7 separate regions of the Homo sapiens genome follow, and all the other regions are reported to be linked to region 1. Evidence: microRNA targets listed by miRTarBase, many of them from high-throughput screens and not tested one by one. Region 1 holds a microRNA gene; each other region holds the end of a gene's coding sequence.
Evidence for each region. The annotated mature microRNA hsa-miR-6720-5p reads UUCCAGCCCUGGUAGGCGCCGCG and lies in region 1 at 2,733-2,755, opposite strand. An mRNA with a match to its seed (bases 2 to 7 or 8) in the 3' UTR can be bound and repressed. Matches are read on the target gene's strand: a 7mer-m8 pairs with bases 2 to 8, a 7mer-A1 pairs with bases 2 to 7 and ends in A, and an 8mer does both.

Region 2: the mRNA of LAX1 is a reported target of hsa-miR-6720-5p. The part of its 3' UTR that is shown has no 7-base or 8-base seed match.
Region 3: miRTarBase lists ANGPT4 as a target of hsa-miR-6720-5p. Seed matches in the 3' UTR shown: 7mer-m8 at 3,513-3,519 and 7mer-m8 at 1,071-1,077.
Region 4: miRTarBase lists MAGI3 as a target of hsa-miR-6720-5p. Seed matches in the 3' UTR shown: 7mer-m8 at 1,438-1,444.
Region 5: the mRNA of TFPI is a reported target of hsa-miR-6720-5p. Seed matches in the 3' UTR shown: 7mer-m8 at 2,096-2,102.
Region 6: the mRNA of DFFB is a reported target of hsa-miR-6720-5p. Seed matches in the 3' UTR shown: 7mer-m8 at 3,408-3,414 and 7mer-m8 at 2,764-2,770.
Region 7: the mRNA of MRGPRF is a reported target of hsa-miR-6720-5p. The part of its 3' UTR that is shown has no 7-base or 8-base seed match.

Annotation. Positions count from the first base shown.
Region 1 is chr6:1,387,627-1,391,702 of GRCh38, forward strand. MIR6720 (microRNA 6720) reads right to left here and starts at 2,785; the gene lies at 2,688-2,785. It overlaps FOXF2 (forkhead box F2), which reads left to right and starts at 1,950. Exons shown (of 2, transcript NM_001452.2): 1 at 1,950-3,492. The coding sequence starts at 2,322. It overlaps FOXF2-DT (FOXF2 divergent transcript), which reads right to left and starts at 1,835. Exons shown (of 3, transcript NR_187218.1): 1 at 1,393-1,835. RefSeq lists an enhancer at 3,132-3,997.
Region 2 is chr1:203,774,413-203,778,488 of GRCh38, reverse strand. It overlaps LAX1 (lymphocyte transmembrane adaptor 1), which reads right to left. Exons shown (of 5, transcript NM_017773.4): 5 at 2,117-4,076. The coding sequence ends at 3,808. Among named protein-coding and RNA genes, the nearest start is that of LAX1, 11 kb to the right of the region's middle.
Region 3 is chr20:869,424-873,499 of GRCh38, forward strand. ANGPT4 (angiopoietin 4) reads right to left here. Exons shown (of 9, transcript NM_015985.4): 9 at 477-3,697. The coding sequence ends at 3,537. LOC124904854 (a long non-coding RNA gene) reads left to right here and starts at 1,529. Exons shown (of 3, transcript XR_007067485.1): 1 at 1,529-1,612; 2 at 3,474-4,076. RefSeq lists enhancers at 3,096-3,596, 3,597-4,076.
Region 4 is chr1:113,683,220-113,687,219 of GRCh38, forward strand. It overlaps MAGI3 (membrane associated guanylate kinase, WW and PDZ domain containing 3), which reads left to right. Exons shown (of 21, transcript NM_001142782.2): 21 at 1-2,704. The coding sequence ends at 795. Among named protein-coding and RNA genes, the nearest start is that of PHTF1, 74 kb to the right of the region's middle.
Region 5 is chr2:187,463,337-187,467,412 of GRCh38, forward strand. It overlaps TFPI (tissue factor pathway inhibitor), which reads right to left. Exons shown (of 8, transcript NM_006287.6): 8 at 894-3,706. The coding sequence ends at 3,600. All of the region lies in intron 2 of CALCRL-AS1 (CALCRL and TFPI antisense RNA 1), which reads left to right. Among named protein-coding and RNA genes, the nearest start is that of CALCRL, 17 kb to the left of the region's middle. RefSeq lists a silencer at 1,552-1,752.
Region 6 is chr1:3,883,324-3,887,384 of GRCh38, reverse strand. It overlaps DFFB (DNA fragmentation factor subunit beta), which reads right to left. Exons shown (of 7, transcript NM_004402.4): 7 at 1,956-3,878. The coding sequence ends at 3,644. Among named protein-coding and RNA genes, the nearest start is that of C1orf174, 15 kb to the left of the region's middle.
Region 7 is chr11:69,001,797-69,005,872 of GRCh38, reverse strand. It overlaps MRGPRF (MAS related GPR family member F), which reads left to right. Exons shown (of 3, transcript NM_145015.5): 3 at 1-1,475. The coding sequence ends at 595. Among named protein-coding and RNA genes, the nearest start is that of MRGPRF-AS1, 8.5 kb to the left of the region's middle. RefSeq lists enhancers at 1,501-2,002, 2,963-3,463.

The sequences.
Region 1 (4,076 bases):
AGAAAGTGGAAACAACTGCGAAGCCCTACCCCAACCCAATCAAAACATCCCACCCGGAAAAGAGCGACTTGTTTCTTTTTTCTATTGGAAATGAGTGGTAAACTGAGTTCGGTTTGGCGGTGTTTTCTTAGCTGACTCTCGGCTACAATCAAGCCATTTTCGGACACATTCCCATGTAGGTACCAGGGGTGCTCTGGAGGAAGCTGTCGACGCCTGTTCAGCTAATTTAGGTTTTCTTTGTCTAATTACTGTGGAGCTTAGGGAGAAGGAGCCGGCTCAGGGCAGTAAACTGACACTCGGTCTCTGTGTGTGGTATCCAGGCAGGGTTTGATGGAAAAAGCCTGCTTCCACTCAACCTCAGGTCACTGTCTGGGGCCAGCCCCGGCCCACCCCCCTCCCACATACCCCTCCCCTCCCCACCCGCCCTCTCTGCATCTACAGCCCCACCAGCACACTCAGCCAGGAGCAGTCCCCCGGCACTCCAGGGGCACACAGGGCTCCTGCCGCCCCAGGGGGCCTGCCTAGGCTGTGCGGCTGTGAAGGCTCTTTGCCTGGTGTCTTCCTCCTGATTACTGCACAACCTCCCTTTCTCCTGCCTCCTGCAACTCCCCAGGCTCCCCAGCAGGCACACCCGTGCACCTCGGTCCTTTCAGCCTAGACGCAGCGGGGTGCCCAGCTCTACCTCCTGTTTGGTCCGCTGGTCTGCAGCACCTTCTTTCTGGGCCTCCCCCTTCAGCCCTTGGGAGGCCCCGCCAGCTCCGGCCTCCTGCTCTCCTCCTCCCTCTCCCAGCTCCTATCCCTGGTCGGACTACATTTCCCTGCACGTGTAATCCAATAACTAACTGTCGGGTCTCATTGGAAGTGATTGCTCCCGAGGGCACATCTCTCTCAGAGCCTGACTCTTACTTAGGGAGGAATTAGCCACAACTGGGGAGAAGTGTTCTCGGACAGGAGTTAGCTGAGACCTGGCACAGTTTTGGGTGGGCAATGTTAAGACGGAGGATGTAAACCTAGTGACAGCTGCACACCCCTTCAGGACTGACTATAAATATAGCCATCTCGCTTATCTCAGGGTCTTTCTTTTTCTTTCTCTTTCTTTCTTTTCTTCCTTCCTTCCTTTTTCTTTTGCACTTTTTTCTTACAGAACACTAACTGGGGTGCGGGGGTGGGGGGAAGAAGTGGAAGCAAATGCAACCCTAAGTCCCATGAGATCCAGGTTTCCAGAGTCTTTGAAACTTGGCCTAGGTTTCTCAGTGTAAATCCCTCTGCTCAAAGTTCCGAAAACGTCCACGATCGCCAGCGGCCCGCAACCCTGCGGCGGCCCCCAGTCGCCCTAACAATTGTCGGGGAGCCTGCAGGCCCTGCCAGAAAGAGAGAGGATTGGCACGTTACCTTTGGGCGTCTGGCACCCCGGCGTGTGGCTGAGGGCGGCAAAGTCTAAACGAAGTTGACAGATGGAGTCAGTATCGGCCCTGGGGAGGGCGGCCAGGGAGGCTCCGAGCAGCCGCACCCGCAGCAGCACCACTCGGCCCGGCGGGCCAGGAGGAGGAAGGGGGCGCGGAGGGGCGGGGCTGGGTCCTGGGATGGGACGCGGGGCTTGCTGCGGGGGGCAAACAGAAAGAATATTTCATGAAGTCAGAGGTGGTCGAGTTTTGCGAGGGGTGGGGGTCGTCCCCCTGGCAGAACCGGAGTGAGTCTGTGATCCCTCAATTGGAAAGAGGGTGAGTGAGGGAAAGGGGAGGAGGCCGCGAGAGGAATGAAGAGCGAGGAGACCCTGGAGAGCGGGGAGCGAGATAAGAGAGGGAGGCGGCCGCCAGGTCGGGAGGGGGAGGAGTGAGCGCGGCGGCGCGGAGCGAGGAGGGGGCAGGGCGGGGTGGGGGGGGAGGGAGGGAGGGAGGGAGCGAGGAGGGCGGCCGGGGAGGGCGAGGGAGGGAGGAAGTCCGAGAGACAGAGCGAGGAGCGCTCCTGAAGGGAGACGTCGGGCTCGTCCCCGGGGTCCAGGCCGCGGTCCCACTCGCGGGCGCAGTCGCCCGGCGCCGGCCGCTCGGCCCCGCGGCCTGGGAGGCCGTTGCGCAAGGCAGGGCCCGCGGCTCGGGGAGGGATGCGCCGGGCGTTGCCTCCCGCCCGCCGCCGCCGCCGCCGCCAGAAGCCCCAGAGGAGCTGAGGGAGGCGACGCCGAAGCGCTGGCCCGGAGTGGCCACGGCTGCAGCCCGGGCGGCGGGCTAGGGCGCTCGCAGGGCTTCTGGGCCGACCCCGCTCCGGCGCCTCCGCTTCCCGCCCGGGGCCCGCCCTCGCGGCCCGGCCTCGCTCCCGGGTCCCAGATGACCACCGAGGGCGGGCCGCCGCCGGCCCCGCTCCGCCGCGCGTGCAGCCCGGTCCCCGGCGCGCTCCAGGCCGCCCTGATGAGCCCGCCGCCCGCCGCCGCCGCCGCCGCCGCCGCCGCCCCGGAGACCACCTCCTCCTCCTCGTCGTCGTCCTCCGCCTCCTGCGCCTCGTCCTCGTCCTCCTCCAATTCGGCCAGCGCCCCCTCGGCTGCCTGCAAGAGCGCGGGCGGCGGCGGCGCGGGCGCCGGGAGCGGGGGCGCCAAGAAGGCGAGCTCGGGGCTGCGGCGGCCCGAGAAGCCGCCCTACTCGTACATCGCGCTCATCGTCATGGCCATCCAGAGCTCGCCCAGCAAGCGCCTGACGCTCAGCGAGATCTACCAGTTCCTGCAGGCGCGCTTCCCCTTCTTCCGCGGCGCCTACCAGGGCTGGAAGAACTCGGTGCGCCACAATCTCTCGCTCAACGAGTGCTTCATCAAGCTGCCTAAGGGCCTCGGGCGGCCCGGCAAGGGCCACTACTGGACCATCGACCCGGCCAGCGAGTTCATGTTCGAGGAGGGCTCGTTCCGCCGCCGGCCGCGCGGCTTCAGGCGGAAGTGCCAGGCGCTCAAGCCCATGTACCACCGCGTGGTGAGCGGCTTGGGCTTCGGGGCGTCGCTGCTGCCCCAGGGCTTCGACTTCCAGGCGCCCCCGTCGGCGCCGCTCGGCTGCCACAGCCAGGGCGGCTACGGCGGCCTCGACATGATGCCCGCGGGCTACGACGCCGGCGCGGGCGCCCCCAGCCACGCGCACCCTCACCACCACCACCACCACCACGTCCCGCACATGTCGCCCAACCCGGGTTCCACCTACATGGCCAGCTGCCCGGTGCCCGCGGGACCCGGGGGCGTCGGTGCGGCCGGGGGCGGCGGCGGCGGCGACTACGGGCCGGACAGCAGCAGCAGCCCGGTACCCTCGTCCCCGGCCATGGCGAGCGCCATCGAATGCCACTCGCCCTACACGAGCCCTGCGGCGCACTGGAGCTCGCCTGGCGCCTCGCCTTACCTCAAGCAGCCGCCTGCCCTGACGCCCAGCAGCAACCCCGCCGCCTCGGCAGGCCTGCACTCCAGCATGTCCTCCTACTCGCTGGAGCAGAGCTACTTGCACCAGAACGCTCGCGAGGACCTCTCAGGTAACGCAGCACGCTCCAGCCCAGCCAGCTGGGCGCACCGCTTCTAGGCCTCCAGGGCTGGCGGCCACTGCCACTCCCACAAACAGGGACCCCGAAGCTAGGAGGTCTGAGGGCACTGGGAAAAGCAGATGCTGGGGAAAGCCGGCATCTTATTCGTGGGAGCAGGGATCAGGGTCTTACTGTCCTCCCAGTATCCCTGGCCAGCAGCCGAAGCTTCAGAATTGTCTGGCTGCTGTGAGCGTGGTGTAAAGTCCCCTGCCTTCCTGGGCTCTTTGGGGATCCCTGTGCAGGAGACTGCAGGTCTCCCGTTCAGAGTCTCACTTAGCTTGGAGAGAAGGCATCTGGCCTTTGGGGAACTTGGTCAGGAAGCTGTGTCTAGTTCCTTTTGTCCCTTTTTTTCCTTGCGTTCATTTTGCTGTACTTCTGTCCCGAAGTAAATGTCAGAATCAGATATGTTCTGTATGTTGGGGTGTCTGCAGCGAGATGTTTGCAGCTGGGCAAGTGTTAAGAGGAGGGGGTGGGAGGGACAGAGCTGGATCCCAGGATCTTTCACTAAAGGGACATTTGCCAGTGGAGGGGGTCAC
Region 2 (4,076 bases), not on the chromosome of region 1:
GAGGAAAGGGAGGCCTGTTTACTTCCATTTCTCTCTAACTTCAGGGGAGCAGGACACCGGCTTATTGACTGAGAGTTTCTGGAAATATTTGCAAGTCAGTATAGGCCCTCAGCCCACAGGAAACCCAGAATTGACGATAAAGCCTGTCATAGTAAGGGGGTGCTGAAGGAGAACAGATGCCAGAGGGACAGCAAGACCTCATCTTCCATTCACCATTAGAGGGTGGGTGCTTCTAGAGGGAAGGAGGGAACTTAGCAAACCTCTGTATTTTGTACTAAACAGTATCCTGAATGAAGACACAATCAATATAATGTAGGTTTGGGTAATTAATTCATTTTATTTAACTAATTAAGGAATCAAAATGGGTTAGTTATCTTTGTTTGTTTGAGGCAGAGTCTTGCTATCACCCAGGCTGGAATGCAGAGGCAAGAATATGGCTCACTGCAGCCTCAACCTCTTGGGCTCAAGTGATCCTCCCACCTCAGCCTCCCGAGTAGCTGGAACTACAGGCAGGCACCACCATGTCTAGCTAATTTTTGTATTTTTTGTAGAGATGGGTTTTACCATGTTGCCCAGGCTGGTCTTGAACCCCTGGGCTGAAGTCATCTGCCTGCCGTGGCCTCCCACAGAGCTGGGATTATAGGCGTGAGCCACTGTACCTGGCCTTGGTTATCTTTATATCTACTTTTTCATCCTATCCTAATCTTGAAAAAATTTCCTCATATTTAGCATCATCGAGTGTATGAGATAAGACAATTAGTCAACATTTCCTGGCAACTAATGTGAGAAAACAAAACCATAAATGGAAAGAAAAAAATTAACATTCAATAAAAAATTTTTCATTGATTCATTTGCAAAAATTTCTTAAAACAAGAAATAAACAGAAAAGTTACGTATCTAAATATGAGACAATCTACAGTGCATTAATCATTCTTGATTTGGGAGAGTATGTAAGTGTGACTGGCTGATTGAGGTATCCAGCTTGTTGGTGTGTAAACAAGCAAGAGCTGCCTTAAGGCCCAGTGTGGTGGCTCACGCCTGTAATTCCAGCACTTTGGGAGGCCACAGCAGGTGGATCACCTGAGGTCAGAAGTTCGAGACCAGCCTAACCAACATGGTGAAACCCCATCTCTACTAAAAATACAAAATTACCATGGTAGCAGGCGCCTGTAATCTCAGCTACTTGGGAGGCGAAGGCAGGAGAATTGCTTGAACTTGGGAGGTGGAGGTTGCAGTGAGCCAAGATCATGCCATTGCACTCCAGCCTGGGTGACAAGACCAAAGCTCCATCTCAAAAAATAAAAAAGAGCTGGCTTAGTTTATTCCAGGACCTGCCCCCAACTGATACGTTGTCCCTCCCACCCTTACTGGGTGACAGATGTCTTCATAACTTCTAATTTAGATCTCATAACTTTTCATCCCCTCTTAGTTATGAGAATTCTGTCATGCCAATGTTTAAGATTTTGTTCAGTCCATTTAAGCTTCATTCTCACATATGATACAAACTTCTCCTTACTTGACTATGGGATTGTCCTTTCGATGCGCTTGCTGCTGCCCTGGCTAACCCTGCATGGTCATCAGTACCAGACTGTCATGGTTCCCTCTGTGTGGCATGAATTTAAATGCTGGCCACTTGGTGGAGTGATGGTCTGTTTTCACTCACGACACTTCTGACACCAGATGTGTGGATTTTCTCCCCCCAACAGCTGACCAATTTTCCAGCTTTCTGGACACCAGTTGGGTGCCCTGCAATTCAATTCTTACACTAACCTGTCTCTCCTTATCTACAATAGATTGACTTATTTAACCCAAATATACATATAAAGTCGTTTTAGAATTGCTAAGCCATGCCTCTGTGAGATACAAATTTACCAACCAGAGTGCAGTTTTTGTATACAGTTCTTTGTGTCCTTATCTACAGTTATAAGTCAAAACATTGTTTTCCAACTTTGTCAGTTCTTTTTTCCCCATCCCTTTCAGTGAGTTGATATCATACATTTATAATACAATTAGATTCATTTGCCACAATTTGCATACCATCCTGGGTTCCCTTGACAGTCTGTTCATTTTTAAAAAATTTGCATACAATAAAAGCCCCTTTGTCTAGTGTACAGTTTTTTTTTTTTTTTTTTTTTTTTGAGACAGAGTCTTTCTCTGTTGCCCAGGCTGGAATGCAGTCCGCCTTCCTGGTTCAAGTGATTCTCCTGCCTCAGCCTCCTAGTAGCTGGGACTACAGGCGCACACCACCATGCCAAGCTAATTTTTGTAGTTTTACAAATATGAGAGACAGGGTTTACAAATTACAAATTAGAGACAGGTTTACAAATGTTAGAGACAGTAGAGACAGGGTTTCACCATGTTGTCCAGGACAGTCTTGATCTCCTGACCTTGTGTTCCCCTGCCTCGGCCCCGCAAAGTGCTGGGATTACGGGTGTGAGCCACCGCGCCTGGCCATGTGTATAGTTCTTGTGTTTGCAAATGGATATTGTCATGTATCCACCACACAGTACCATACAGAACAGCTCCATCAGCCTATTCCCTTTGCAGCCCCTTTGTAGCAAACTTCCCTCCTTTTCTCAAACCTGACAACAACTGATCTGTTCTTCATCCCTATAGTTTTGCCTTTTCCAGAATGTCATATAAATAGAATCGCCCAACATGTAGACTTTTAGGCCTAGCTTCTTTCACTTAGCAAAATGGATTTAAGATATGTCTATATTATTGTGTGAACCAAGAGTTCATTTTTTACTGTTGAGTATGGATAAACTCAAGGAATGGATATCAACAGCTTATCCAATCACCTGTTGAAGGATATCTGGGTTATTTCTAGTTTTTGGTAATTATGAATGAAGCTGCTATAAACAGTCATGTGCGAGTTTTTGTGTGAACATAAGTTTTCAGTTCACTTGCGTCAATTTCTAGTAGTGAAATGGCTGGGCCATATGATAAGTTATGCTTATAAGAAACTGCTGAAAAGTTTTTCAAAGCTGCCCTGACGCTTTGCAATCCCATCAGCCACCAGTGAGAGTTCCTGTTCTTCTTCATCCTTACCTACATTTGGTTGCCCACACTTCTTTTTTGTTTGTTTTTTTTTTTGAGAGGGAGTCTCGCTCTGTCACCAGGCTGGAGTACAGTGGCACAATCTCGGCTTGCTGCAACCTCCACCTCCCGGGTTCAAGCGATTCTCCTGCTTCAGCCTCCTGAGTAGCTGGGATTACAGGGGCACACCACCACGCCTGGCTAATTTTTGTATTTTTAGTAAAGATGGGTCATGTTGGCCAGGCTGGTCTAGAACTCCTGGCACCAAGTGATCTGCCCTCCTCGGCCTACCAAAATGCTGGGATTACAGGCATGAGCCACTGCACCTGGCCTGCCTACACTCTTTAAAATGGAAATTGCCCACCCCACTCCACTCCAACTTCTTCCTTCCTTTTGACCTCTGACTGGATTATACAATAATCTATACTCTTGCTTTGCAGCCTGTTGGTATTAATGAAGGTAATAATCTTAGACTACTGTGCACTACTTTCCTGCTTTCTTCACAGTTCTAGGAAGCAGTTTCAGCAAACATTCTTAGGCTGGTACAGGAGATAACCACACTCTGCTTGAGAAGAATTCCCTTCTGGAATTCCCAAACCTCTGCTTTTGTGTGGCCTCTTAGTTCACTGCTCATCTCAGCCTCTTTTTAATCTAACCAGTGAATCCACTGAAGCACTAAGGTGATCACGGGTCTGCACTAGACTCTGCAGTAGTCAATCCTATGGGATAGACTACTCAATGTGGCTTTATGGCTGGGTACCTGGGTCTTCATTCATCAGGAAGGAGCTGAGTGCCAGGCCCCTGCTCAGAGTCCCTGCCTCCTAACTTGGCAGTTAGCACATTTTCATAGTCACTGGAGTCCTCATTTGACATCTCTTCTCTATGTTTCATCTGACTGTCCTCACTCTGTGTGAATGGCTGAAAGTCTGCATAATCCCCTGAAGCAAGGAATGTCCTTTTGACACATTGGACATGGGTCCCGGGATCATCTGTCTTGTCCTCGACATGACCTATGTTTGAGGATGGCACATCTTTCT
Region 3 (4,076 bases), not on the chromosome of region 1:
TCTACAGTGCCTTGTGCTGCCCAGGATCCTCAGGTTGGTCTTGTCTGCAGCCATTGTGAGTCAGCCTCACTGTCAGAAGGGCTTTCAGAGGTTGCTAGGTGCTCTGTCCATGGGAAACTGAGGTTCAGAGAGGGCCAGGGGCTCTGATCCAATGGCAGAGCCAGACTGATAACAGGGTCTAATATTCCTGGGCAGGACACAGCTGTGCCCTTGATAGTCAGAGGCAATCTGGGATGAACTGGATCCTGGGGTCAGGACCTGGGGACAGGGAGGCCGAGAGAGGGCACAGAGGTGGAGAGAAGAGAGATGAGAGCCAGGGACAGGGAACGAGGGAAGGCTGCCTAGCATCCCTGTTTCCTGAAGTCATGACTTGGGTGTCACTGACCCCACTGCTGGTGCCAGGCATGATCATGAGACCGAGGTCTGGTCAAGCAGAGTAAGAGTGATAAGCATAGGGATGGACACAAGACCAATCCTGGCTGCAGAAAATCATTCCTTTACTGGAATCATGGAGACGAGGGAGCTCCCCGGGTCAGGGATGCTGAGCTGGGAGGACATGAGCCTGGGGCTGCCAGAGCCTTCTTGTGAGGAAAGATCCTGGCTGAGAATGAAGTCAACGGGGCAGATGGAGGGGCTGAGAGGTGGAGCTGACATCATTTGAGCCTCTGGATCTAACCTCACTTGCCTTTACCCTTAGACTTTCCAGTTATGTGAGTCAATTTATTCCTTAGGGCTAGAATTTCTATCCCTTATACCTGAGTCCTGGCATGGAAGAGGAAGGAAGGTAAGAAAGAAGGATGAATATTTAAGAACAGGTGTCTGAGGCTGGGTATGGTGGCTCATGCCTGTAATCCCAGCACTTTGGGAGGCTGAGGCAGGTGGATCACATGAGGCCAGGAGTTTGAGACCAGCCTGGCCAACATGGTGAAAACCCGTTTCTACTAAAAATACAAAAGTTTTCCGGGCGTGGTGGTAGGCGTCTGTAATCCCATTACTCAGGAGGCTGAGGTAGGAGAATCACTTGAACCAGGAGGCAGAGATTGCAGTGATCTGAGATCATGCCACTGCACTCCAGCCTGGGTGACAGAGTGAGACTCTGTCTCAAAAAAATAAAATAAAATTACATAAAGAACAGGTGTCTGAGGATAACTCAAATCAGCTTCCTGCCCCCTTATAAAATGGGAGTAGAGAGGGACTTGGGCCTTCAACCCACCCAGAGGAGTTCTGTCCCTGGGCCTCACAGCTTTGCCCTGTCTCCTCTCTAGCTTGCAGTCAGCCTAGAAACTACAATAGAAAAATAAATGATGTGGATACAAAAATAAAATGCCTTTTCCTCACCTGAGTGCAGGAGAAGGGGCGGCATGTGCTGGGGAATGCCTTCCTCACCCCATTCTCCTCTTTGAGGACAAACATTTATTAGGCACCTGCTTCATGCCAGGCTCTATTAAGAAGATGACATACATGGTCTCATTTCCTCCTTGCCATAGCCCAGCCAGGAAGGAATATTATCATCTCCATTTTACAGATGGGAAAACTGAGGCTTTGATGATGTGAAGATAACTGGTGCCTTGAGAGGCTGAGCCACTGGACCAAAGTGTCAGAGCTGGAGCAGGTTTGTCCGACTCCAAAGCCCTGCCCACCACACCACACTGCACACAGTAGAGGCTAAATAAAGGTCTGCTGGGCAAATGCTGCTTAAGGCGATTTGAGCTCTCTGGGCAGCAATCTGCCCCTAAAGATTTCCCATCATGCCTGAAATGCCACCATTAGCAACCATGTCCTTTGAGTCTTGAAGGGGAAGAGTGCTAATTCCCAGGAATGAGATCAAAGTCAGTCTGTGCTGGGTTTACTCAGGGATCGGCTGAGAGTGGGACTCAGGGCTGGGGCGAGCCAGGGGGATGAAGGGGTCCCATTCCCATTGGCTCAGTCTCATCCAGGAGAAAACCTTCTGAGGACAGAGGTGTATCCTGGCGGTAGGGCAGGTGGGCTCCTGGCTATGCCTGGGTGTTGGCTGATGACAACAGGGCAGACAGCATGACACAGTGATGGGGGCAGGTGACAGAGTAGCTGTGGATCCTTTCTGACTCCATCCTCTGAAAGAAGCTATGAGGGCCCTGGTCTCCCAAACTCAGGCAGAGGCCTTATCTCCTCCCCTGCAGCTCCCCACCTACCACCACAGAGGCAGCATCACTGCTGGATGGGGAAGGGAGGGAGGCTAGGGGTTAGGGCTTGGAGGCAGAGAGGATCTGGACTTGGAGACAGATGTCCTGCCTAACAGTCCCTGTAATTGAGCCTGGGGGAGTTGAGGTTACAGGGAGTCCTAAGGGAAGCCACCCAGGTAGAGATCAGCTTCCTGGGACTTGAAGGAGCCTTGGAGGACATGAGCCTATAACACAGACAGGGACCTAGTTCTAGACCCTTCTTCAGGGATGGTATCTGTTTTAACTGAAAGGTTATTTCCAGTTGTTTTTAGAGGTTGTTTGAGGCTGTCACTGTGGCCCTTGTAGCCAAAAAGGGTGAGTATAGCTGGGGTGGGGATGGGGTCGTAGGGCTCCTCCTTATGCCAGGGGAGCACTAGCTTTGTCCAAGAGCATCTACAGTCCTGTGAGATGCTCTGGGACAAACCGAGCCCATTTTCAAATAAGTAAATTTGGAGAAAGCTGCCCACTCTAGCCCCTTCATGGGTAGTCACAAGGCACTTGGCCATATTAAAGGCTCTGATCAGTCCTGCAGTGAAGAGTGCCTGTTCACTTTGACTTAACCTGCTGTTTCCTTTTCTCATTGCTCATAGGTACTTTTAGAGACAAGCCATAGTTATTCCCTGTGACACATCCTCTAGGACATGCTGGAGGTGAAGGAGCATGTCCTTTTGGGTCTCCTAAAGACCCTGAGCTCCAAACATTGGAGCCTAGAAGTGGTGAAGTGGTAAAGCCTAGAAGTGGTGAAGTCTAAAGACCCTGAGATCTAGGGTCATTAGAACCTAGAAGTGGTGAAGTGTGAAGGGGAAATAATGATTAACCCACCCACTAAGGGGTGGATGCAGCCCCTTCAGACTTGAAAAGAAAGTTCAAGGACATCTCAAGACTAGAAAATCTTGGAACAGGAGCTTAGAATGGGAGATGGCCTTCTTGCCAATCCAAGGGAGAGAACCTGGGCCATCTGGGCAGCTTCCGATGTGCAAATACATTCCCACCTGCCTGCAACCCCACCATTGGTCATGGGAATCAAGTTTGGTCTGTTCTCAGCCCATTCAAGGTACTGTGACCCTCAGGCAGGGAGCCCCTGAAGGGGGAGGGAGAGAAGAGGGGCGAGGACTACATCAGAGGGATGGGCCCCGAACACCCTCCATGTCACAGACGGAGGGGAGTTGGGGGGCAGATGACCCTTCTGGACTTCTGGGTCAAGGAGGGCTGGCTCAGGAAGCCCAGGGTGTCAGGGAAGGCGGTGGCACAGTGTCTTGCATCTGGGTCCAGGTTGTCCAGGAGTGCCAAGTCCGAGCTTCTCCTGTGTGGTCCAGCCTCTGGCACAGCTGCTCGTTAGATGTCCAAAGGCCGTATCATCATGCGAGAGGCACGCAGTGAGTAGCTGGGGCCCTTGAAGTAGTGCCAGCGGATGCCGTCCATCTTGTACTTGTTGTCGGGAGCGTGGTAGTAGACGCCGTTGAGGTTTGACAGGCCACAGGCGTCAAACCACCACCCTGGTGGAAGAGGGAGGACAGGCGCTTGGTGGAGGTGGGAGCCCAGCCAGTGGCAAGAGGGCAGCCCCTGTGTCCCAAAGAGAACAAAGACTAATCGGGGCTGTTGCCTCCTCTGGGAAGCCAGCTGGCTGGGGATGGGGCTGGGTGGGAGTGGGGGTGGGGTGGACAACAGACCCTCTGCTCAGCCGGGGCCTCTAGAGGGCAGCAAGGGGCTCTGGCCACTCCTCGAGCCCCCTTGCTCCTCCCGGCCTTCTCCCTGAGCCCTTGGCGTCCCTGTCTTCCTCCCTCACTGAACCTGTCTTTCCAGCTCCCCAACCTCCCCTCATCGCTCTGCTCACTGCTTTCTAGTGGTCTCTGTCACTCTCTCTGAGTCTCTCAC
Region 4 (4,000 bases), not on the chromosome of region 1:
AGAGGTAGATCGGTTAGTCCCAAAAAGCCAGCCAGTCAACATTCAGAGGAACATTTGGATAAGATTCCTAGTCCTCTAAAAAATAACCCCAAAAGAAGACCCAGAGATCAATCCCTCAGCCCCAGCAAAGGGGAAAATAAAAGTTGTCAGGTCAGCACCAGGGCAGGCTCTGGACAAGATCAGTGCAGAAAAAGCAGAGGTCGGTCGGCCAGCCCAAAAAAGCAGCAAAAAATTGAAGGAAGCAAAGCTCCATCAAATGCTGAGGCCAAATTATTAGAGGGTAAGAGTCGAAGAATAGCAGGCTATACGGGCAGTAATGCTGAGCAGATCCCAGATGGGAAGGAAAAATCAGACGTCATCAGGAAAGATGCAAAGCAGAATCAGTTGGAAAAAAGCAGAACAAGGTCTCCAGAGAAAAAAATCAAAAGAATGGTTGAGAAATCTCTTCCATCCAAAATGACTAATAAGACTACAAGTAAAGAAGTATCTGAAAATGAAAAAGGAAAGAAAGTAACCACAGGAGAAACAAGTTCTAGTAACGATAAAATAGGAGAAAATGTCCAGCTATCAGAAAAGAGGCTGAAGCAAGAACCTGAAGAGAAGGTAGTTTCAAACAAAACAGAAGATCACAAAGGGAAAGAACTAGAGGCAGCTGACAAAAACAAAGAGACTGGAAGGTTCAAACCGGAAAGCAGTTCTCCAGTTAAGAAAACACTGATAACTCCAGGGCCCTGGAAGGTTCCAAGTGGAAATAAAGTCACAGGCACTATTGGTATGGCTGAGAAACGGCAGTAACCTTTAGTATAAAACAAAGAAAAACAAGTTGTAATCTTTTCTTACAGCAGCATTTTTCCAGAAAAAGCCTTTTTTTTTTTTTCAGATATTCTGAAACAGATAAGTACATGTTAATGTGAGCCTCAAGTTACCTAGGCTGCATGAAGGGCCTTTAGGATTGCTAAGAACCAACTGTCCCCCTGGCCGGCTGCCCTCCCTCGCTCTCAGGAAGGAGCTGCATCCACATGCTCATCTGACCCGCCCTGCTCAGGCTGCCCAGCTCGTCTTCATGAGTGTCTGAACAAATGACATATGTTGATATTAACAATGTGGTCACAACTCACTTTGTATTTGTGCCAAGTTATCTACTGTATCATGTCTGTTTTTATCCTTTTTGTTCAGCTGTTTCCACAGTAATGAAAAAGTTAGGTTTGGCTTGGAAGTTGATGATCTCAATAGCATGTTGCATGTTTACAGAGAGAAATATGTGAGTCCTTGCAGAAGAAGAGACTGTTAACTCATCGTTAAAGATGGCCGTTGTCTCTTCTAACAGCTACTGATGATGTCCCACTTTAAAAATAAAACCCCCAAACATCACTACTTTAAGGAAAAAAAAAATGTAGTCCAATATTGATGCTTTCTTATGGCTTTTTATTTTAATTTGGCTGGATAAGTTGTTTCAAATAACTGTTAAAGATATTACTTACAATTGAATGTTTGAAATAAGAAAGTACTTTAAGCAATAGAGTTCATCTCCTGCTGTGTTATCCAACCTCGATGTATACTTACAGCATCTCAGGTCACCCTTTTTATTTCAGTTATTTAATTATGAAACCATAAAGAAGCATGTGGAAATAGTGTTTATTGCTCTTTGAAGAAAAACCACCAACTATTTCTGGATATTTTGGCTGTACCTACTACTAAAGTCATTAGTCTTTAATACATAATACATATTTGAAAAGTAAACATATTATATAGATTATGTGAGGGACTTAATCATGAAACCAGTTTCACAGTCCAAGTACCAACTCTTCTGGTAGCAGGTGCACAAGCTTGGGTGTTTAAAAACAACCTGTGTAGGGTATGCCCAGCAAATGAGGACAAATGTGTAGACAGTACTTACTGGATCTTATTTAACTTTTAGCTACATTAACTAACTTTCTTATTTAAAAACAAGAAAGGGAGACTAAACATCTGCTTAACTTGTACACATTTTCAGAATTCTTTTTAAAAGTCTAGTTAAAGATGTTTCTTAGAAGTTGGAGACTGTTAACAACTTCCATAAAATAGATCCAGGTTTTTCAGTTCCCTGAAGCAGCATTCAGTAGCATCTATATAAATAAAGGCACCTTCTGAGAATAAAACTATTTTATGGAGTGTGTGAACACACTTGTTCTGTCACCTGGGTTCATCTTGTTGTGAAGCACATTAGGTCCAGGTCCTTCCCTCTGGGAGTCTGACTGTGAAACTCTTTAACCCAACAACTCAATTAGCCCCTGTAGATAAGACATGCTTCCCAGAGTGAGATTTTTGAAATCCCCTTTTCATCCAGAACTATATTTACCCACCTATTGTAACTATTCAAATAGAGCAAAATTAGGAGGCTTGATAAATACTAAGAATTTAGTACCACAGAAATTATTTATTATTTTCCCTGTAGTCCACAATTAGTGATAACGAATCCTATTTTTGTTAACTGTGACATAACTTTGATGTCATATGTTGTCCTATGTGGTTCTTCCTAAGTAAACTCTGTACTGATTATATACTGACTTAGCAATGTGGCCTTGGAATGCTGAGCAAAATGTGGATGTACTGGTTGTAAATGTTTATATATTGTACAGTACCTTTATATATACACTTGAGGTTCTGATTAGAGAAAGATCTGTAAATTGCTCATTATTTTTTATATAGATATTTAAAAAAAACAGTTTATGGCCTGCATTTCTTTTACTGTCACATTGGTTTAATGTTGCTTTCTAATGGTGGAGCTAGGTCCCATCATAGTCTGAGTCCTCAAATAGATTTTGTCCCTCCAAGTAACAAACTTTCAAAGTCCTAAAATCAGGAAGAGTCTTATAATAATGATTTTACCTCTATAGGTATACTTTTATTTATTTATAAATAGAGTTTGAAATTCTTTAGAGTTGAATATCATTATAACCATTTTTCATCTTTCATTGTAAAGAAAATAGCTTTGGATAAATAATTTGCTACTGAAAATCCTTTCTTAACACTGTTGGGGAGAGAAGAGGAGTTTCTCATTGGAAATTCAGCTACTAGACATTTATAATGGATATAGTAATATCAGTCCAGTTACTACAAGGTCACAAAATCCCATTTCATCAGACTAATGATTCACATTATCTTTAAAGATCATTTATTTATTTAGTTTTATACTTACTTTTAGAATGTTTTGACTTAACTCGGTATGAAAAGTGCCTAAAACCTACTTCAAGACCACGGTTAATTTTATACTCTTTTAAGGTGAAATATAAATTCCCACTTACCATTGCAAGAACGCATACTAAAAATAAACCCACGGTCGGGCACAGTGGCTCATGCCTGTAATCCCAACACTTTGGGAGGCCAATGCAGGCAGATCATTTGAGGTCAGAAGTTCGAGACCAGCCTGGCCAACATGGTGAAACCCTGTCTGTCTCTACTAAAAATACAAAAATTAGCCAGGCATGGCGGCAGGTGCCTGTAATCCCAGCTACTCAGGAGGCTGAGACAGGAGAATCGCTTGAACCCGGGAGGCGGAGGTTGCAGTGAGCTGACATCACACCACTGCACTCCAGTCTGGCTGACAGATGATGAGACTCCATCTCAAAAAAAAAAAAAAAGTATACCCAAACTTCTAGTTAGTTCCCAGACCCCACAGTGAAGATGTGCCATAGCAGAGGCTGCAGAAACAAACAGGCAGTAAAATCGTTTTGTTGTTTTAGTGAACATATTTTCTTACTGGTCACAACAGGGAGAAAAGCTTTGAGATATTATTACATTGTCTCCCTAGTGAGATTAGAAGGCTAAGATCCTATGATATTGTCTTTAGTTACATCAGTCTTGGACCAGGCAGCTTTTGAACAGGAACAACTCTTATTTCAGAAGTCTTGGATCCAGAAAGGCACTTGGCTTTTTATTCTACATGAGAATACCTTGTTACTTCCCTTTTTAATAGCAAGATTTAAAAGAGAAATAAATGTAATCATGTAGAAGTAAAACC
Region 5 (4,076 bases), not on the chromosome of region 1:
CTCTGGTCTTTTCAGTTTTGTGATTCAAATATATCTCTGTTTTATTTCAAACTGATTGGGCTAGAAATTTTACAATCTGTGGCTGAATTGATGAGGAAATCATATTCATTGTCCTAATGCTCCATTTTATTTATTATAAGGTTAAAGTCTCTCTCTGTCTCCCTTTTCCTGGTACAATAAATTACCATGCACCTACTATCTAAATATTTCTTATATTTATAAGTACTCTGAGTAATTCTAACCAAGAAACTAGCTATGTGGTTGTAAGTAGTTCAGAAACTGGACCTGCAGGACCAACAAAAGCAAGGTTTTCTGTTCTACCTAGCAAAATGTGGGGAAAGTGATTAAAGTACATCCCAGCCAAAGTCCCTGAGAAAGCACTTAAAGTCAAAAGTTGGAAACACTAAATAAAATTGCTAATTTGCTAAAAACCAGGTAAGAGCAGGAGCCGCTGATGACAGAATCAACCAACAGCCTAGTTAGCTAGTTTAGTGTCATGATTTTTTTTCTTCTGATATAGAGATGGGCTAGGCCAAATACAATAGCCAGGATAGGAAGTTATGTAATGTATAGTTATATAACATATATTTAAATATACATGTCTATATTCATACAATTGTATATGAAATGAGTGATGAAAATATATATGTAGCAGAGTAAATTTTAAATGTATAGATTGTTAGGACATAGTGTACTAATTTGTTTGACAAATAAATTATAATATATGGGTGTGTACTTGCAATTAAAAGGCAGCTATTAACAATTCCAATTTAAGGAAATAAAACCAGAGTGTGGGAACAATCATTTTTGGTCTTAAGATTTTGTACCGTTATGATAACTAATGAGCATTGAATTCTTTATGTACTAAAATCTTTACGAGTACAACAGCCAGGTTTCATTATTCAGAATAATATATTTTACTTCTTATAATGTAAAAAATATAATCGTTTGAGTGGTTTTCAGCATGATCTGTTAATTTTGAATACAGAGAATGAACAAAGCAGGTAAATATATGTATATGCTGAATAATGTAATTCCATATACAATTCACAGTTAGATGCACTTAATTGTGGAAAATAAAGGAAGACAATAACATCAAGATCTTTTTCCAAAACACGGTAAAAATAACGTTCACATGCATTAAACATTTCAAGCCATCTCAGTATATGTCTTTCTTGAGTAAGTAGTGAACCAATGGACCAGTGGTTATTGTTGGAGAAAACAATTAGGCAACTCATCAATGCGCTATTTATACAATCTTAGTGACTATTTACCACTTCACCTAAGTAGACTTTCCCACTCATTTGAAGCTATTGCTATCTATAAATAAATGGCAACAGGAAATGTTTCACAAGGGCCTTTGATTTCCAAAACTCTCAAATTCCACAGCAAAGACTCAATTTAAGGCAATTATTTATGCACTGAATATTTGAATGAAGATGTATTATTTTCCTTAAGTGAAAAAAGCTGATACTATTTTGTAATGATAAAATTTGTATACCATAGTAGAAAATGATTTGCAATTATGTGTTAGGACTTTTCATATTCCATATTGAAACATAGTGATTCTGTAGCTGGCATCAGCTGTACCCTGACTTCACATGAATGGCCTGGAGGGGATCATATTTTTAAACAGGAAATCAGTGTGAATTAGCTGAGTAATTAACATTCAGTGTACAGTGAGCATTCTTAACTAAATCAAAGTAGTCATGAAAGAAAGTACTGTTGGTAAATCCAAAAACATACATCAAAATTAAATGGTGAGGTTGAAGGTTGTAGTTAAGTACCAACTAGTGTGAGTTCTGGGAGCATTTTGAAATGGTGGAGGAATGTACTAAATTTCTGAGGAATTAATACTGATGGGAAGGATGCAGTAAAGAGTAAAAACGGGGGCATTGTGGTTTATACCTGTAATCCCAGCACTTTGGGAGGCTGGGGCTGGAAGATTGCTTGAGCCCAGGTGTTCAAGACAAGCCTAGGTAACGTGGTGAAACTCGTCTCTACAAAAATTACATAAATTAGCTGGTGTGGTGGCCTGCACCTCTAGTCCCAGCTAGGTGGGAGGTTTCAGTGTCCTGTGATTGCACCACTGCACTCCAGCCTGGGTGACAGAGTGGGACCCTGTCTAAAAAAACATAACAAAACAAAACAAAATGAAAAAAAAAAAAAAACAAGAAAAAAGAAAAGAAAAAGAAAAAAGTAAAAAGCCTAGGGATTGGGTGAACTTTTTCGAAAAAAAAAAAAAAAAGCATAAAGATTTGGAGACTGTTTAGATGTGGTATATGAGGGAAAACAGGAAATCTAAATTGAGTTCAAAATTTCAATCCTGAAGAACAGGCAGAATTATACTATCATTGTTAGCGAGAAGTCATGAAGCTATTCATGAAGCTATTCATGAAGCTAGTCATGAAGCTAGTCATACCAAATGAATGAAATGGTTGTTTCTAAATCAGTTCCAATTCCAGTGTCAGATTTGAGGTGAACACTACAGAAACTGACATGTCTTGGAGGTTGTTGAGGTTGTTGAGGTTGTTGAGATGCCAGACTGCACATGGCTCAGCAATAAATGAAAGATACAGGTCTGGATATAGTGAATTAACTCCAGCAAAATATTAAATCCCCAAGAATGACTAGCACATGAATTTTCTAGTAGACTCTTCCCTGCTGATAATTTTCTCTTCAACAGAAATAACCTACTTTTTAAAGCATGAATTATTAGTTGCATTGTGTGCAAATCCTAATGATAACTGAATAGATTTCAGAAGGTTTAAATATTTTTGTTATTTTTAGTAAGAAAAAATATTGGGAAGCATAGTATTAAGAAGTACATATAAATAATTCCCTCTCGATTGCCATAAAACTTCTTGTTTCCATAAAGGTTCTCCTTATCATGAGTTGTATTTAACACACAATTATTCAGTCATCTTGACTGATAGAATGGGCTATGGTCAAACAAAAAAAAAAGTGAAACCAATCCAAATCAGGCAGGCACATGATGCAGAGTTGACTGTTCAAAGACAGTTTAGCTCAATATAGATGGAAGTACTGGTTAGTACAAAAGGAGAAAAACTATGTCTAAGGAGGGAAGCACATAATAGAATTCTATTATTACAATAGAATACTATAAATACAAAATTGGATAAACTTTATCAGAAGCAGGTGTTTGTCACCATTTTATATGTGAAACTCAGGAAGTTCTTGATTTTTTAAGAGCTGTATTCCTTAATCTGGTTACAGGCTATAAAGGAGATAATCATTTACATGATCATATTCTCAAACAGATGGTCACCAAATGGAATCAAAGGACTGATTTGATGTAGCCGGTAGTATGATAATTTGTAGTTAAATGAAAATACAGATAGATCCAGAAAATAAGTAATTTCCCAGTAGCCAGTTAATAAATTACAGACCTAGAATAAGCAATTTAACAAGATTAGAAAAGCAACTCTGATACAAACGTGTTGATAACAAGTACAATAAGCATAGAAAATTTAATGAACATATTAATTAAAAGCATTTTAGAAGAAAAATAGAAAATCATAGTGAAACATTTCATATAAAATATTTAGTAGAATTAATGTTACATTGCTATAACAAATTCACATATTTTTAACAAAAATTTCTTCATATGCTATTTTCACTCTCTGCTTCTTTCTTTTTCTTTTGGTTTTAATTAGGCCTCCTTTTGATATTCTTTGGATGAAACCTATAAGAGGAAGAGGAATAAATTAATGTGTGATAAAATAACACAATGAAATGTTTTATCTAAAATCTTCTCAAAGTAACTTTTAATATTTAAATCCAAAAGATGTTATTGATTTAAAAGCCTTTAATTTGTCCATGTATTCGTGTAGAACAATTTATTTTTAAGGACGTTACTTTGCATATATGAGTTAATAAAAATGGATAAGCATGCCGTTCATTTTTATTATTAGTTCCTCTTCTGTTACAAATCCATGCTTGCTTTATTTTTAAATAGTAGAAATGTGGTTGTATGTGGTTGATTAAGTTACAGATAGTTTTTATTTGCATTTTTATACTCTTCTTAGTCTTTTATAAACATGCATTACTTTTAT
Region 6 (4,061 bases), not on the chromosome of region 1:
GAATGGCGTGAACCCAGGAGGCGGAGCTTGTAGTGAGCCAAGATCACGCCACTGCACTCCAGCCTGGGTGACAGAGCGAGACTCCGTCTCAAAAAATTAAAAAAAAATTTTTTTTTTAAATGACAGCACCTATCCTGGTGGTGACGAGAATTTTGCCATCCTCTAAGCAGACTTCAGTGAGGTGCACTGTCCCAAATGATGATACACCTGCAGAGGAGACGCAGCACGCAGAGTGGAAAGTGTGTGTGTTCCTGGGGCCACCCCTATTCACTCACAGTGGTTAACCTGCACTAACAAGCACTGCCAGGTAGAAACACTTCCTAGTCTACATGTGGACTGTAGCCTGCACAGACCTAGGGGGACTGACCAAAGGGGGGCGAATGAGGGAATAAAAGATAAGATACAAAAGAGTGTATTTGTGCTCACGCACACCCCCTGGCGCAGGCCGACTGTGGCTCTGCCTACAGCGCTTCCTCCTGAGCTGCAGGAGGGCCATGTCTTGTGGTCGTGTTTGCTGCAGCTTTGCCGTCTGGATGGAGCCTGGCACTGAGCTGGTTGAGGCCGTCTGCAGGCCTTTACTGGGCTCTTCCCTTGGAAGCTTCTTACTGATGCCAGGACCTCCCAGCAGGTGACCCTCAGCCCCACAGATCACAGAATTCCACACTCTTAGCTCCTAGAACTTTTCTCCCTCTTGTGTGAGAATGCACAGACCACACACTCTTTCTTTGTTGCAGAGGTTCAGCCACCTTTTCTAACCTGAGACTCTGGGTGACATAACTCCTGATAGGTGATAGCTCTTTGTAACAATCACCAGCACCTTGCCCAGCCAAGGGCCCGGAAGCAAGAAAAAAACAACCAAAACACCATGTCACAGCCAGGAGAGCCTTGCACGCTTCACACACAGCTCAACAAGCCTGGGTTTCCGGTGTCTCAACTCCTGCAGAAATGAAGCCTCAAGTCAGGAAGGGTGAGGAGGGGCACGGACAAGGCCCAACGGCAGCAGGATGGCGCAGAAAGCCTGAGGGACACAAAACCTTCTAGGCCTAGTCGTAGGCAGTGGGGCAGCACCGTGGAGCCACGTGGTAGAGGGATAGCCGCCCTGTGTGTCCAGGGCAAGGTGGCACAGCATGCCTGGACCGCTGAGAAGGAAGGACTTCCCTCAAGAATGTGTCTTGCGCCGGGTGCAGGGGCTCACGCCTGTAATCCCAGCACTTCAGGAGGCCAGGGTGGGTGGATCGCCTGAGCCCAGGAGTTTGAGACCAACCTGGACAACATAGTGAGACCATCTCTACAAACATAAAAATAAATTAGCTAGGCATGGTGGCACATGCCCGGGGTCTCAGTTACTGCAGAGGCTGAGGCAGGAGAATCACTTAAACCCAGGAGTTCAAGGCTGCGGTGAGCTGAGATCACACCACTGCACTCCAGCCTGGATGACAGAACAAGACCCTGTCTTAAAAAACAGACAGACAACAAAAGAATGTGTCTCTGAAAAAGGCCCACGTCTGTGGCTGTTAAACAGAGCAGCTCGTCTCCTGAGGCTGGAGCGATGGAGCTGGAAGGGCCTCACAGCTGTCCGGGCCAGGCTCCTTGCTGCACAGGTGGGATCTGCTGGCTCCAGAGAGTTCTTCAGACCCTGCAAGAGGGATCTGAGAAGAGGGACCAGGCCCCCCGGTTCCCAGGCCCTGACTCTCCCACTGTTTGTCCTTCCCTGATCAGAGCAGATAAACATCACCGTACCATAGATGGGACTTCTAGAAATTCCCCACACAGGACTGGGTTAATTCTAAGGTATTGCTTTAGCTCTGTGAAGAAAATGTAGTCAATTTGTAAAATTGAAGTCAATTTGTAAAATGACTCAATTTGTAAATGAAGTCAATTTGTAAAATATCACAGACTCCTTATTTTTATCCTTATTTTCAGCATCCTCAATGAGTGCAAACTTTCTTGACATGTCTATTTTTGAAAAATCTTTATTGCTTTTCCTGATTGTACAACAAATGTAAAAATTCAAATATTACAAAATGACTTAATTTAAAAAGTACATTTTAACATGTTATAAAATAAATGCCCATTTCAAAAAATTCAAGTATCATAAAATACATGACGTAGAAAATGAGCCCTCTGTAATCTAGCCCAACCCCCGTATCCCCCAGGATTACTGCTGTTCAGATCCGCGTGTTTCCTTCCAGACCGTCTCTGTGCACCCGCCACCCACACGGCTGACATGAGCTCCATATGATCCGAGATGATAGTAACGCTGACCAACGGAGCAGGGTTCAGCTGCCGATGCCCTGAACAGCTTCCAGTTTCTACACAGAAACGCTTTCCTCATAAAAGCCTGAAACTGTGACACAGTTTTGCACTATGTAAATGTATCAGGTTGAATCATGAAATAAATGATCGCTCACCATTTTTGGCCTAGAAAACAGCAGTTTCACGTGGTTCAACGTGATAGCTGTTCAACAGACATTGGGGGGTTTCCTATTTCTTGCCATTATAAACAATTCAGCAGGTCAGGTGCAGTGGCTCATGCCTGTAATCCCAGCACTTTGGGAGACCGAGGCGGGCAGATCACCTGAGGTCAGGAGTTCGAGAACAGCCTGGCCAACATGGTGAAACCCCGTTTCTACTAAACATACAAAAATTAGCTGGCCCTGGTGGTAGGTGCCTGTAATCCCAGCTACTTGGGAGGCTGAGGAAGGAGAACCACTTGAACCTGAGAGGCGGAGGTTGCAGTGAGCCAAGATTGCATCACTGCACTCCAGCCTGAGCGACAGAGTGAGACCCTGTCTCAAACAAACAAAAAAAAAAATCAGCAGTGAATGTCCTTGTATGTTCTTTACGGAGTATAAACATCGTACCCCCAAAGCATGACACCTCTTTTGGGCATTTAGAAGAGTCAAGAGGATGGAGCTGCCCATTTGCCATGGAAAGGGAGACCCAGCAGAGAGCTGATACATAAACAACTTGTCCCTCAAGCAAGGTGGCCAACTTCAGCCATGACACCATTTGAGTATGGTGACCACATTACATGAGCAAACCCAACGCTGGTGAAACCAGAGAACAGAAGAATTCCTCAGCCCAGAGACAATTCTTATCCCTACTGACCCGTATGACCAGGTACTCACAGACATCCAACGAGTACCCCAGAGCTGTCCTCTGGAAGTTGGGCTGTCAGAAGGTATAAGAAATGATTCAGGCTGGGCGCAGTGGCTCACACCTGTCATCCCAGCACTTTGGGAGGCTGAGGTGGGCGGATCACCTGAGGTCAGGAGTTTGAGACCAGCCTGACCAACATGGTGAAACCCCGTCTCTACTAAAAATACAAACATTAGCCGGGCGTGGTGGCACATGCCTGTAATCCCAGCTACTCGGGAGGCTGAGCCGAGATCGCGCCACTACACTCCAGCCTGGGCAACAAAAGTGAAACTCCATCTACAAAACAAAACAAAACAACAAAAAAAACCCCAACAATTCAGAAATGTAATGAAATCAGATTTGGAGGAAACATTTTTTAAGGTTTTTTCCAGGAGCTACTGGAGTGACCAAAAAAACGAAAAACAAAAAAACAAAAAAGGCACCTGTTAAAATGATGCCCACGTCAGGCCTCAAACAAAGACCAGGACGTGGTGTGTACGTGTCACTGGCGTTTCCGCACAGGCTGCTTCCGCTTCAACCTTGTCTGGGGTTTGTAGATTCTGCTTGGGTCACAGTTGAGCTTGTGGGTGGTTTTCTTATGGCAGACAATGTGCACTAGTTTTAGGTTCTCTGAGGTAAAAAGCAGGCCATAAAAATACTCCCAGTCCACTTCTCTTCCATCTTGTTCCTTAATTGCTTCCACCAGTGTAGGAATGATGGTGCGTTTCTTTTCTATTCTGCAAAGTAAGGTTAGAGACATCATTTTCTGTGGTCACAGTGCCACAGGCAACAGGTCATAGCAGTGTATTGCAGTCACAGCTCTTCACAAATTCCCCTAAGTGCTATCACGGACACACGGCCGCACCTACTGGCCAGGTTTGTTGAGCAGAGCCTGATGCAAGCAGCCTGGCTCCTCTTAC
Region 7 (4,076 bases), not on the chromosome of region 1:
CTTCCCCGCCTGGTACTGGCGCCGGCGGCCCAAGCGCCTGTCGGCCGTGGTGTGCGCCCTGCTGTGGGTCCTGTCCCTCCTGGTCACCTGCCTGCACAACTACTTCTGCGTGTTCCTGGGCCGCGGGGCCCCCGGCGCGGCCTGCAGGCACATGGACATCTTCCTGGGCATCCTCCTGTTCCTGCTCTGCTGCCCGCTCATGGTGCTGCCCTGCCTGGCCCTCATCCTGCACGTGGAGTGCCGGGCCCGACGGCGCCAGCGCTCTGCCAAGCTCAACCACGTCATCCTGGCCATGGTCTCCGTCTTCCTGGTGTCCTCCATCTACTTAGGGATCGACTGGTTCCTCTTCTGGGTCTTCCAGATCCCGGCCCCCTTCCCCGAGTACGTCACTGACCTGTGCATCTGCATCAACAGCAGCGCCAAGCCCATCGTCTACTTCCTGGCCGGGAGGGACAAGTCGCAGCGGCTGTGGGAGCCGCTCAGGGTGGTCTTCCAGCGGGCCCTGCGGGACGGCGCTGAGCTGGGGGAGGCCGGGGGCAGCACGCCCAACACAGTCACCATGGAGATGCAGTGTCCCCCGGGGAACGCCTCCTGAGACTCCAGCGCCTGGAGGAGGCAGGGGCAGGAAGCGGCCTCCAAGACCCTTCGCCTTGGGACAGGAATGGGCACCTGCTTCTGAGTCCATACAGGAGAAGAAAGATCTGTTTCCTCTCCTCGGGCCTCCTTCTCCCTGGGCTGGGGACTCCAGGGGTGGCTGGGAGACTGGGCAGCCACCAGCAAACAGACCCTGTGGCCCCTGCCCGGCTCCCCCACCCATTCTGCTCCCCTAGAGACCTCTTGTACAGAAGTTGCCCCCAGGTGGTGGGGCCCCTCCTTGCCCTAGGCTGGTTGGTAAAAGAGAGGAGGTCAACACCCAGCCTAGCCACCTCTGCCTCTTGGGTCAGCCCTCCTTGACTGTGTCCCAGCCAGCACCAGGCCAGCAGCCTCATCCCTGCCATTCAGGGCTGTTCCAGAGATTCGATCCTCTTAAGGCATTATCAGTGAGCAAATGTGAAGGAAATGGTGTCTGGAAGAAAGTTCTGGTTCACATGCCTTGTAGCTAAGTCTTTCTGCAAACAACCTCCCTTCCCCCCGTCGAGTCATTTGGTGACTTTGATGGGGGGATTTCTGGTTATGTCAAGGCTCTGGAGACAGGAAGGGCCTTTGGCCGCCTTGGGTAGTTGACCTGCCTTTTCTGACTCCGGGACGAGCCAGTCCTAGGCTGCCTCCGGGAGCACTTGAGGTATCCCGCAGGCCATGAGGACCCACTGGGCAGCTCCTGGACAGCCTCTTGGCTCCAGCCCCCACCCGAAAGTGGACACTGGCTCCGCCCTGGCCACCTGGGGACTGGCACTGTGGTGCACAGTGGCCCAATGTGGCCAACGGAAGTTTTATAAAAGACAAAATGTATATCAATAAACATTTTATAACTTGCAGCCAGGAAGGCTTCATGCCCACAGTCCTACCCTGGGTCTCTGTTTCCGACAGTGAGGACGCCCAAGGGCACAGAGTCCCGGGACGGGTGGCACCCCCCGCCAGCTCTCCCGCACACTTTGCTCTTTGCCTCTGCTCTCAGGCCTCCTCCTGGGGCTGGGTCTGCACACACCCGTGTTCCCGCTCCTGTGGCTTGTCCACTCCCTGCCAGAGGGAGCCGTGGTCAGCCAGGCTGTCCTGTGCCGGCGTATCCCAGTGCCCCTTCTCAGCTCGGAGGCCCCCACGGCCTCTGGGAGCCACAGCTCTCACCTCCTCCATGCCAGGCTCTGGGCCGGCCACCATGGTCCTGCCTGTGTCCACCGGAGGCTCCGTGGAGTGGATTGCTGCCTCTCCTCCTGTTGCCCCCGTTCAGGATGCCCCTCTCTGTCTTGAGATCCCTGAGCCAGCCTCCCAGTGCCCAGACATCTCTCTACAACCCAGCGATAGGCTGGGAGCCCTCCCAAGATGACAGCCCAGCCAGCGCCACGCTAGAAGGGTTCCTGCCTGGCCCTTTTGCCTCTGGTCAGCCCCCAGAAGGGCCCCATCCTGGGTTCCTGGTGTGCAACCTAGGACCCTGGCTCCTTTGAGACAAGCCTTAAGGCAAGCCTGCTCACCCCATGGTCCCATGGAGAGAGATCATGGCAGAGGTGTTGGTGCCCCCAGTCAGGAAACGTGGCTGACAGAGTTGGGCCCCTCGTCTGCAGAGCAGAGCCAGGAGCAGGCAGGCGGGCAGCACTCCGAGCTCCAGGTGGGAATGAGTAGAGGCGTGGGCAGTACCACCAGGTTCACGCACCCAGCCACCTGGAACGTGGCCTTCTAACTGCAGGCCCTGGAGCCTGCTCAGCCTGCCCCTGGTGAAGTGGTCCAGCCCTCAGTGGGCTGACCCCCCAGTTCTGTGTCCCTGATGATCCACTGCCCGGCCAACCTGACCTCCACTGCCCTCCTGCCCCTGCTCCTCAGCCCACTGCTCCTCCATGCTCCCCTTTCTAACAATCCTGGTCAGGTCCTCTCAGCAAGACCACCGCTCTAGGAAAAGAGGGGATCTCATGTGGCCCAGATGTCGTAGTTCCAGGACCTCTAGGTGATGAAGGTTGCATGTCCCCACCCGCTCCCTCCCAGTGCCCAGAACGAGCTCTGCCATCCTCCAAGTCCCACCCTCCCCAGCGCTGGTCAGAGGATCCCAGAAGAGCAGAGCTGGAGACCACCATGTCCAACAGGTCATTTCCAGCGACTCAGAGAAGCCAGGTGGGGCCTTGAGCAGACACACCAGGAGGCAGGGCTAGGACCTCGTCCAGTGGCGAAAGCTCCCACCAGCACGGGCATCCTAGCTACACAAGTGGGCAGAAGCACGTCCCTCTCCTGAAGGCAGCTGGGTGGGGGGTCCATCTGGGGTCCTGGCTCCTCCTCAGGGCCCAGAGCATCCCAGTTCCTGGGAATTCATCTCTTCCTTAGGAGTCCCCACCCCAGGACTCCAGCCCTGAGTCCTCGTGGGGAGCTGCTGACCTAGAAGGAAGGGGCCTCCCTGCCTGGATGCTGCTGCAACAGCTCAGAGCCAGGGCCGGTGAGGGGGTGGACAGCCTCACGCAGTAGCAGGGCCTGGAGGTCAGGAATAGGCTGGGTCCGACTCTAGGAGGAGGCATCTGCCCTGATGGATCCTAAGGCGGGAGGGGCAGAGGTGAACCCCAGGAACTAGGCCTCCCCCAACCCGTGGCCCTTCTCAGGTGCAGGTGTTTGCAGTCTTGCTAGGGAACAAGCTTTCTTCCCCTCCATCCCCCCGCAAAGCCCCAGGATTCCCACACCTCCCTGGACCACCTCGCTCTCTGTGCTAATGGAGGGAGACTGCACAGATGATGAGATGAGCGGGAACTGCCCGCTCTCCTCCACTTTCCTCCTCCTTCCTTTGGTATTTAATTATTAAAGTGGGCTTGGGAGGAGCTGAGGGCTGCGGGGGAGATTTCCATCCCACAGCTCTGGGAAAAGGATCCACAGCAGGTCACAGAATGGAGAGTGGGGCATGGGACCAGAGCATCTGGGCTGCCCTGGTTGTTACAAAGCCGACTTAGTAACAACCATGTGGTATGTGGGAAGGGTGGGGTGAAGGGGCAGGGGTGGGGCATCAGGCAGGGCAGAACTCTCCACTTTTCCGTGCTGTCTGCCACCCACTATTTCTATAAAAATAAGCTGCTCTTTTAGATTATGCAAGGGATAAGCAAGGCCAAATTTGGAAAGTCAAGAGCAAGCCTCAGGGAGGCAGAGGGCTGCCACCTATAAGCCATGGGACCTCAGTCTTGCTGTGCCTCACTTTCCTTGGATAAGTCAGCTACAGCACCGACCTCCAGGAGTTGGTGCAGTGGCCTGGGGTGGCAGCCGGTGTGCCTGATTGCCCTGGTCGGGCGTTCAGGGCAGGGAGCAGAATGGCCACTGCAGAAGGGATGTGCCTGTGAGTGGTTTGTCCCCAGCACCAATCTGCTGTTTGCGGACATACTATGGGCAGTGGGTGCTGGCCAAGAGCTGCACGTAGGTTTTCTGTTGACTGTCCATGCAGGGCTACATGGCCCATACTG